2 separate regions of the Homo sapiens genome follow, and region 1 is linked to region 2. Evidence: fine-mapped expression QTL. A gene starts in region 2. The other region holds a variant in brackets. All regions are shown on one strand. Distances are from middle to middle. Region 1 overlaps RAET1E-AS1 (RAET1E antisense RNA 1). Region 2 holds the start of MTHFD1L (methylenetetrahydrofolate dehydrogenase (NADP+ dependent) 1 like).

Region 1 (5,372 bases), 970 kb before region 2:
GCAGAACACCCGTCCACCATGCAAACCGGGTGGGGCCACCTGTCAACTGTCACGTGTGAGTGATTCTAGGACAGGGTAACTCGTCCAGAATTGGATCCAATTCAGTACTGGATTCACCATCAGTAGAAGGACCAAGACCAGACTCAAGTCCCAGCCACGAAATTCTAGAAAGGATTTAATGTAATTTTAGCAGTTGTTGGAGACCAGCATGTGATGGCATACATATGTTTTCCTTGATATGTAGGTGGGGGCCCCCACCTTTTTTCAGGGTTTAGGCTTCTGCAGGTCCTGGCATAGCTGTGACAGCGGCCCTACCTCATTTCTGGTGGGTGCTGGCTCCCTCTATTGCTTGGTTTCTGTGCAAACACTGCATTATCGTCCTGCCCTCTTGAGACCTGGAGCTCCTGCCCCCTGAGCTCGTGTTCGCACTGTGTGTCACTGAACCTCGCTGTTTTCTTCTTGCAACTCCATTCCCCTCTGCAACTGGAAGACCAGCACTTCTCCTGAGTCTTCCTTAAAAGACACCCTGCCCACTTCCTTACAAAGCCCCCACCAAAGTGACACCAGCTACTTGTGAATGTAGCCAACTTTACTGAAGATTTAGAGGTTATGTTATAAGGCTGTGAATAATTTAAAAAAAAAATCACCTATTTGCTCGACCTCTTTCTTATCTCTTCTTTGGACTAGAAATAAAATATCTATGATTTGACCACACTGTCATCTAGTACTCGACCCTGGTTCTAGGCCACCGTCCTCCTGGCCAGGGTGATTGCAGTGCTGCCCTACTTGGTTCTCCGTGCCTGTCCCCACCTCCCAAATGGCTACAGCGCAGCCAGAGTGATCTTCAGAACCTCATCACTCACGCCCCCCTCTGCTCCAATTCTCCAAAAGTGCCCTTTTTCTCTCAGTAAAACCAAAGTCACTACAGATGCCTAGAGAGCCCTGCACAGTCTGGCCAGCTGTCCATTATGCCCCCTCACTCGCTCAGTTCCGACCTCCACCCTCGGCCTCCTTGCTGGTCTTCAGAGCCCTGCAGATGTCCCCGTGCCTTGGGACTTTGCATTGCCCTCCCTTCAGCATGGACTGCCCTTCAGGCATCTGCCCGGCTCACTCCCACTCCTGCTCCCAGGTGGCACACCCTTCCACGCCTGGTTCTCCCTGCCCCTCGCATTTGGAACCCTTGTATTTCTTTCTTTCTTTCTTTTTTTAAAATTGTGGTATGATTCATGTAACGTGATTTTTCATCTTAACCACTGTTAAATGTAAAGGCCTCTATTTCATAATGGGAGACCTCTGCCTGCCCAGGCCATCCTGGACCTTCTTCACCTGAACTTGTTCCCCTAAAGCAATGACCACTTTAAAACATACCTTAGTAAGCCGCGCACAGTGGCTTACACCTGTAATCCCAGCATTTTGGGAGGTCAGGGAGGCTGGATCACCTGAGGTTGAGTTTGAGACCAGCCTGGCCAACATGTTGAAACCCTGTCTCTACTAAAAATAAGAGAATTAGCCGGGTGTGGTGGCCAGTGCCTGTAATCCCATCTACTCAGCTTATTGAGTCAGGAGAATCACTTGAAGCCAGGAGGCGGAGGTTGCAGTGAGCCGAGATCACGCCACTGCTTTGCAGCCTGGGCAACAGAATGAGACTCTATCCCTATAAACAAACAATCAAACAAACCTTATTAACTTTTAATTGTGGTTGCAACAAATTACTGCAAATTTAGTGCCTTAAAACAACATACATTCATTCTTTTACCATTCTGGAGCTCAGAAGTCTGAATAGTCTCACGGAGCTATCATCACTGTGCTGTCAGGGCTGTGTTCCTTTGGGAGGCTCTCGGGGAGAACCTGTCTCCTCCTTGCCTTTTCCAGCTGCTCAACTGCCCACGTCCATGGCTCAGGACCCCATTTCCTCATCTTCAAAGGCAGCTCCACCAGGCTGAGTCCTGGTTTACATGAGAACACTACCCCTCCATGGCTGGTTTTCCCAGGGCAGCTGATTAGCCACCTCAGCTCCATCCACAGCTTTCACCGCCCTTTCCATGTACCCCAACACAGAGGTTCCAGGGACTGGATCTGCCATCCTGAGGATTGGAGAGGGAATTCTTCTGCCCAACACACATACCATATAATTTACATATCTATCCATTTAAAATTTCTATCTCTTACTAGAATGCCATTTCTGTGAAGACAAAAACCTCATACAAGGCACAGAAAACAGCTCCCCAGGGGTGAAGGGGCTCAGATGGGCCCCCTGGCTCAGGGAACAAGGAGAGGTGTCAGGGCAGCCTCCCTGGGTCTCCAGCCTTCACAGCCGGTGCCTCCCAGGCAGGTTCCAGCCACAGCAGCAGCAAAAGAGATGTGGTGGGCAGCATCAGGCATTGGCGAGATTCCTGACACAGTTCAGTCGAAAAGAAACTTCCTAAACTGAGCTCACCTCAAGGAAGCTGGAGATAAATGCCACCTTACCCAATGGGTACATGAAATACAAATACAAATCCTTTTCCAGGTTGTGCAGGTTACAACTGGCCCAATTCTATGCCTGGTCCCCTGCCCTGTCCTGCTGTGACTTGCCAGGGTGGGGTGCTCATTGGCCTCCAGGCTCCACTCACTTTTCTGACCGCACCCAGTTTCCACCTCCAAGTCACCCCCCAGACTGCTTCTCCTTTTGCTGT[T/TG]TTTTCTCAGCCCAGCAGAAATTCTAATATTCGCCAGGCTTGGCCCTGCTCAGGGCACCGGAGAAGGAGCCTCTGAGGAAAATCTTGGCACAAGGAGCAGCTCTCCCACCTGGATTTCCAGCACCCTCTGTTTTCTGGGAACTCCTGAATTTCTCTGGCCATTGGCACAGGGGCTCTGCCACGCAGTTCCCCTGGCGGCTGGCCCCTGACATCTGGCAAAGAGTTAGGAATGCAGGTGTTTCTGGCAAATATGTAGGGCCTATGAGATAAGAAAGTGGGGGAAGCAAGATCACGTAGGTTCTCTGTGAGAGAGGCCGCATGCCCAGCAGGACAGAACATCCCTGGCTGACAAGGGCCATCTTCCCCTGTCCTTATCTCTGCCTGGGCTCCAGCTCCGTCCTGCCTGACAGAGGCCGTGGAGCAGAGCACTGGGCTGCTGGTCAATGTCCTGGTCTTTAGATAGACCAGTCTCCGGATGGGGTCACAGTGGGAGAGCAGTGGGCCTGGGAGGTGCAGGGTTAGTGCAGGGCAGGGCTGCCTTGAATCTGCAGGTGCGGGGCCACCAGGCTGGACCTATCTGTATGCTCAGCACAGGAGGTTGCAGTATTGCCTGCCCTCAACCTCCTTTTCCTATTTCTGCTGCTAGAGGGCACTGGGGACTGGGGTCAGGCTGGGGGTCTTGCCATCCCCTCCTGATCTCCTCCACTCCCTGTCCACAGCTCCTGATTTCCCTGCCTGGGCTGCCCCCACCAGAAGTCTCCAGGCCTAAAATCCAGTAGGAACAGGCAGCCTAGCCTGTCCCCAGGGGTTTCTTTAGCACTTGCAGGAGTCAATAAGGCTTCAGGTAGGAAGGCCTGATGCCTTCCTCATCCACAGACGCCTAACAGGTGTTTCTGGAAATGTATCCTGTGGCAGCCAAAGAGGCTGGACTCCTCAGTGTGTTTCCAAACAGAGCCAAACACAGAGTTCATCGGTTGGAGGAGCCCAATCAGCTGCTCATTAGTGTGCCTTTGACAAGCCTTTGTACGGCGGGGAGGAAAAATGATTTTCATGAAAAAAACAAACAAACAGGAGTTTATTATCTATCTATCTATCTATCTATCTATCTATCTATCTATCTATCTATCTATCTATCTATCTATCGTCTCTTGTATATACACAGGAAACACCTGGAGAAAACAAGTAATCCTTAAAGTGCTGGCTTAGAGCTCCAGCATCTTCAACAGAAAACAATAAACGTCTAGAGAAGTGGCAGATCATGGGAAGGCCAATCTATGGCATCAGAGAAGCTTGTGGTGCCTCTGCTGCTGTCCCTAGGCCTGACAAGAGTCTGAAATTGTCTTTGGTGATCAACCTTTGTCCTTTCTGGTAGAGAAGGGAGGATACAATCAAAAGTGGCTCAATAATAACTGGAAAATAAATGGAAAAGAAAGATGTTCATTTCATCCAGGTTCTTGAATTCATTGACATACGGTTGTACATAGTATTCCCTTATAATCCTTTTTGTTTCTGTAAAGTTGGTAGGGATGTTTCTTCTTTCATTCCTGGTATTAGTCATTTGAGTTTTATCCCTCCACCATTTACCTAGTCATTCTAGGTTAAGGTTTGACAATTTGGTTGATCTTTTCAAAGAACCAACTTTTGGTTTTATTGAGTTTGCCAATGTTTTTCTATTCTTTATTTCATTTATTTACACTCCAATTTTTATTTCCTTCCATTTGTTATTTGGGGCTTAGGTCGCTTTGCTCTTTGAGTTTCTTAAAGTGAAATATCAAGTTATTAATTTGACATAATCCTTTCTTTGTCCTGTTCTTTCTCAGTATACTGGCATTTACAGCAGTAAGTTTTCCTTTAAGTGCTGCTTTATCTGCTTCTTATAAATCATAGTATGCTGTGTATTTGTTTCCATTCATCTCAAAGTATTTTCTAATTTTCCTTGTGAGTTTCCCTTTCGTTGATTGGTTCTTAGAATGTTTATAAAATTGTTTGTCTTAAAGATGATTCTGCCTGATATTATTAATAGCAATTTCAGTTGTCTTTGTTTACTATGGATGTGTTTTATCTTTTCCATATGTCTACTTTTAAACTACTTGTATCTTGGGATCTACATTGTATCTTTAGATCATTTTTTAAATGCATTCTGAGAATCTTTGCTTTTTCTTTTGAATGTTTATCACTTTGACATGTAAGGGAATTACTGCTAAGGTGGAACAGAATTTACGTCTGCCACCTTTTTCTTAGTTTTCCATATGCACTATGTCATTTTCTTCATCTTTTCCACCACTATTGCTTTGTTTTGTGTTAAACAGATATTTTCTACTGCATCATTTTACTTCCTTTATTGTCTCTTTTTCATTTTTTATTTAAAAAAGTTATTTTGTTAGTCATTTCAGGGGATTCCAATTAATATCTTAATTTACCACAACCTAGATCATATTAAAACCAACTTAATTTTAACAGGATGCAAAATCTCTGCTCCAATATTGCTCTGCTTCTTCCCCCATCTTTGTGGTATAAAAATGATATATACATAAATTATATGGCATGTGTTTTGCAAAGAATAATCACCTGCCACCCCCACCCACTCCCGCCAATCCCAGAGGATGCCGGTGTGAATCCCTGGAACCCCCCACTGGGTTATATGGAAAAGGGAGTGAAGGCTACAGATGGAGTTGAGGTTGCTCATCATCTGCCCCG
Region 2 (5,372 bases):
AATCACCTGAGGTCAGGAATTTGAGAGCAGCTTGGCCAAGATGGCGAAACCCTGTCTCTGCCAAAAACACAAAATTAGCCAGGCATGGTGGTTGGCTGTAATCCCTGCTACTTGGGAGGCTGAGGCAGGAGAATTGCTTGAACCTGGGAGTGGAGGCTGCAGTGAGACAAGATTGCGCCACTGCACTCCAGCCTGGGCAATAAAGCTAGATTCCATCTCAAAAAAAAAAAAAAAATGCAATGCAATGGTTTCGTGACCTGCCACAACGTGGCCCTGCCCAGCTCTTCTTACTTGCCATTGCTACTCATTTTCCCCTGCCCTCCCCACTCGACTGAACAGCTCTCAGTATCTCAAATTCATCATGCTCTCTTCTACTCCAGACTTTTGCTCATGTTGTTCCTTCATTTCCAACATTCCCACTTTTCCAACACTGACCTTCCCTTAGCTCATTTCCTTCCCTTAGCTGACCTTCCCTTAGCTCAACTGCTAAGGTCTTGCCTCCAGCTGCCACCTCTTTCACTTTCTTCAGGAAGCCTTTTTTTTTTTTTTTTTTTTTTTTTGAGACAGGGTCTCACTCTGTTGCCCAGGTTGGAGTGCAGTGACACGCTCACAGCTCATTGCAGCCTCAATCTCCCAGCTCTGCCAGTAAACAGATGGGCCTCTCTGGACCCCAGTTTCCAAAGGTTGAAGGTCAAGACAATAGCTCTCAATTCCCTACTTTTGTTAGGATTGTATGAAGGGTCCTTCCAGCACTGTCCCAGTATGGTGCTCGGCTAATGGAAAACCAATCTCTGTAACTTGGACTAGTTTTATTCCCACCTTATCTGGGAATTATAAGGGTATAAGGTTGTAAAAATATAAAGTTAACAATCTGACCCTCACTTGGGAATCATAAAATTACAATCTGATATCCACTTTACTTGGAACTTATGGTCAGCCCTCTGTATCCTCAATCAACCTGGGACTGAAAGTATTTGAAAAAATTACAATAACAAAAAATAATAAAAAATCATAGAAATAAAAAAGTACAGTGTAATATCTATTTACATAGCATTTACATTGTATTAGGTATTATAAGTACAGCAGGTCCTGGAATAACATCATTTCATCATTTTGCTCAGTGGTTTTCTTATAATGATGAGAAAAAAATAGATTTCTGGCTGGGTCCACTGTCACGTTTTATCCATGTCTGTGTGGATTTTCTCTGTCTTCTGGTGTCCTGTCACATCCCAAAGCCGTGCAGTGCACTTTAGGTAAATTGGTGCATCTACACGATCCGAGTGTGAGTGTGGGTGTGTGTGAGCACACCCTGTGAGGTGCCCTGAGTTGGAATAAGCCGGTAAAAATGATCTCACTTTTATTAATCTTTATTTTTCTCTAAGCGAGAGGGATAGGGGGTGTTTAAAAAAAACTTTTTCTTTGAGACAGAGCTGTGCTCTGTCGCCCAGGCTAGAGTACAGTGACATGATCTCGGCTCACTGCAACCTCTGGCTCCTGGGTTCAAGCGATTCTCCTGCCTCAGCCTCCCGAGTAGCTGAGAATACAGGCACGCGCCACCACACCCAGCCAATTTTCTGTATTTTTAGTAGAGATGGGGTTTCGCCATGTTGGCCAAGCTGGTCTTGAACTTCTGGCCTCACGTGATCTGCCCACCTCAGCCTCCCAAAGTGTTGGGATTATAGGCGTGAGCTAAAAATCTTCCTTAAATATATGCATGGCTCACACTTATTTCAATGTTTAATATTAGAAGTGTTTTGGTCTTTATTTCGAAGTTTAGGGGCGATTTTGTGACCACAGATATGTTGTAGGAACTTCACTCATATCAATTAGCCTGTGGTCAAACTGTTTTCCTTACAGTCATTTGGCTTAAAGTTTCAGTTTCCAAGAACCCCTCCACGATGTTAGGTGAGGACTTAGGGAATGTGGAGATGACCTAAAGTTTATGATGGGAAGATGTGTGTAGGTGATATGCAAACACTTTTTTTTTTTTTTTTTTTTACCAAGGACTTGAGCATTTGTGGACGTGGGTCCCCTGGAGGGGCCCTGGAACCAATCAGGACTATAAAATCCTTTTAAGGTTTTAAGAAGAGCATTGTTATCTCTGTGGTACTGACGAAGACCCCGCAAGCTCACCGAGATTAAGTGCCCCTGCCTAAGGTTACAAAGCCTCTTATCCTCAGGCCACCTCCAGTACAGCAAATCCAAGCCCTCCCGTCTAAACTTGGCGCCCTGAGTACCAAGGGTCACCTCGGCCTTTCAGGCTGAAGGGAGGGAGGCTGAGTCTCAGGGCAGAGTCTGAGTCCCACTCCGCACCCCACCCTCTGTCTGGTACAGCTTACCAAACCAAAGTGCCCAAAGCCGTGACATCCCGGCCGGCGGCTCGCAGGCCCCCGCCCTCCGCACGTCACGGCCGCCGGGTGCAGTGCCCCCTAGGGGCCCCTGGGACGAGGAGGAAGCGCCAGGTCCTTCCCGCCGCCGCCGCCGCCGCCGCCGCCTGCTCCCCTGGCACGCGCCCCGCCGCCCTCGGCAGCCGCAGCTCCGTGTCCCCTGAGAACCAGCCGTCCCGCGCCATGGGCACGCGTCTGCCGCTCGTCCTGCGCCAGCTCCGCCGCCCGCCCCAGCCCCCGGGCCCTCCGCGCCGCCTCCGTGTGCCCTGTCGCGCTAGCAGCGGCGGCGGCGGAGGCGGCGGCGGTGGCCGGGAGGGCCTGCTTGGACAGCGGCGGCCGCAGGATGGCCAGGCCCGGAGCAGCTGCAGCCCCGGCGGCCGAACGCCCGCGGCGCGGGACTCCATCGTCAGGTGAGTGTCGGGTCTGGCCCTGGCCCAGGTCTCCAGCGGCTGTGGCCCCGACCCAGGGGCGGAGCGCCCGGGACCGCCGTGGGGAGCGGGGCGCGGGGCTGCGAGTGTTTGGTGCCAACTCATTAGGGGGGCCGGGCGGTGTGTCGGGAAACGCGGGCTTGGGCACTGCGGCCGGGAGCGCTGGCGGAGAACGGGGGATCCAGTACCCGACCGGGCCCGCAGCGCAGGTGGGCGTGGGCATCTCCAATGGGCGCCTAGCGGCATGGACCGCACGCCCGGCTCCACGTGCGCAGCCGGCCGCCGGCTCTGATGCAATCGCGCCGGGCGCGACCCAGACGGTAAAGGGGCGGTGCGGCTGGGGCGGAAACCAGGGGAGGGGGCGAGGAGCAGGAGGAGGGCGGGGCTGCGGCTCGGCGCGCCGGCTGGCCCGGGGTTCGGGAAGGGCAAGCGGAGCTCGGGAGAGGCGGGCTCGGGCCCAGCGCCGCCCGCGCGAAGCTCCCTGGTGTTGTGCGCCCTTCCCCGCGCGCGGCCCCTCCTGCTGGGCTGGGGTCTGTGGCTGACGTCCGCTTTTCCCGGAACGGCAAAGGTGGAGCCGGGCCCCCGGGACAGCCGCCGGGGGGAATCCGAGAGGTCTCAGCGCTGGTTTCCAGCTTCGCCGCGCAGCGCCCACGGAGTCCCCGCGCAGCTGGGTTTGCAGGGTTTTCTGCGGGCCCAGAGCGAACTGGGAGCCCCGGGCCCGGCCTTTCCCGTCCCGGTCCCCGCCCCTGGGCTCCAGCCTTCCCCGCCCTCGCCCAGAGGGGCGCACGGGTCTCGGGCCTTGCAGGGCGAGCCCTTCGGGACAACTTGGGGGTGGCAAGAAAGCCCCTTCCGCCTCCCTCGGAACTGGGATTAGGAACGAGTTCCAGGATGCGGTTTCCCCGGCCAGCGGACCACCTCCTCCATTCACATCCTCTTCCCTTTCCTTCTAGCCTTCTTTCTTAGTCATTGCCTGCTTGCCTTTCTCTCTGCCTTTCCTTCCTCCCTCTGCTCTCCCATTTTCCTCCCCACTCCCCTTCTCCCATCTCAGTAAAATACGTTTCCTAGGCTCTTTATTATGTGGCGGATGATTTTAAGGGGCCATTTATTTAGTTTTTCTTGTTCTCTGTCTTCTTTTTCTTTTAGAAATGGAGTCTCGCTTTGTTGCTCAGGCTGGAGTTCAGTGGTGCCATCTCGGCTCAATGCAGCCTCCGCCTCCTGGGCTCAAGCGATTCTCCCGCCTTAGCCTCCAGTGTAACTGGGACCACAGGTGTGCGCTACCATGCCCGGATTATTTTATTTTATTTTCATAGAGACAGAGCACCACTCTGTTACCAGGCTGGTCTGGAACTCCTGGGCGCAAGCCATCATCCCTGCCCCCAAAAGCGCTGGGATTAATTACACGTCAGGTCATTAGGTTTTAACCTGCACGTTGCTGAGACTCATCTTACCGGTTAGAGTCTGAAGCCAGGATAGGCGGCAAAAAAACTTCTCCCGTCATGCTGTTTTATTTTCTAGGTAAACTGATTATTACCTGAAACTTCCTTCTTTGCTCATTTCTTGTCTGTCTCACCCACCTGGAATATGAGCTTCATGAGACAGCCGTCTCTTCGGTGCTATATCCTAGGTCCTGGAGAGAGTGCCCAGCATGTAATAAGCACTTGTGAAATGGTTACAGAAGGAATGCTTCAAGATTTGGGGTCATCTGTGGGTTTTATTCATACATATTCTTTTTTTTTTTTTTTTTTTTTGAGACGGAGTCTTGCTCTGTCACTCAGGCTGGAGTGCAATGGCACGATCTTGGCTCCCTGCAACCTCTGCCTCCCAGGTTCAGGCGATTCCCCTGCCTCAGCCTCCCGAGTAGCTGGGATTACAGGAGCACGCCACCACGCCCGGCTAATTTTTGTATTTTGAGTAAAGACAGGATGTCTCACCATGTTGGCCAGGCTGGTCTTGAACTCCTGACCTCAGGTGATCCGACTGCCTTGGCCTCCCAAAGTGTTGGGATTACAGGCGTGACCCACCGCGCCTGGGCTATTCATGCATACTTTTAGGTTTAAAGCCATGACTGCCTTAGAGATGAGTAAAGAGGTTAGTAGGGGGCTTTAGGGCCTGCACTGGGTTCTCCAAACTCAATTCCTTCAGGAAAATGGGAGGAGTAACAGTACTTACCTCAAGGGGTTATGGAAACAATTATGTGAGAGGACACATGCAAAATACATAGCCCAGGACTGTCACATACAAGACAAGTCCCTCAACAAATGGTGGCTATTAATTTTTTTTTTTTTTTTTTGAGACGGAATCTCACTCTGTCGCACAGGTTGGAGTGCAGTGGCGGGATCTCGGCTCACTGCAACCTCCGCCTCCCGGGTTCAAGCGATTCCCCTGCCTCAGCCTCCTGAGTAGCTGGGATTACAGGCTCGCACTACCACGCCTGGCTTATTTTGTGTTTTTAGTAGAGACGGGGTTTCACCATGTTGGCCAGGCTGGTCTCAAACTCCTGACCTCGTGATCTGCCTGCCTCAGCCTCCCAAAGTGCTGGGATTACAGGTGTGAGCTA

The links. PIP is the estimated chance that this variant, and not a neighbour inherited with it, causes the effect.
Region 1: its variant is the best candidate, but not a certain one, in a credible set for the expression of MTHFD1L in tibial nerve (GTEx, PIP 0.80).

What each region holds. Positions count from the first base shown.
Region 1 is chr6:149,898,163-149,903,534 of GRCh38, forward strand. All of the region lies in intron 1 of RAET1E-AS1 (RAET1E antisense RNA 1), which reads left to right. Among named protein-coding and RNA genes, the nearest start is that of RAET1E, 2.7 kb to the left of the region's middle. RefSeq lists a silencer at 211-505. The variant T/TG (reference allele first, on the strand shown) is at 2,676.
Region 2 is chr6:150,863,253-150,868,624 of GRCh38, forward strand. MTHFD1L (methylenetetrahydrofolate dehydrogenase (NADP+ dependent) 1 like) reads left to right here and starts at 2,450. Exons shown (of 28, transcript NM_015440.5): 1 at 2,450-2,797. The coding sequence starts at 2,571. RefSeq lists silencers at 2,292-2,521, 2,582-2,991, 3,152-3,351, 3,472-3,621.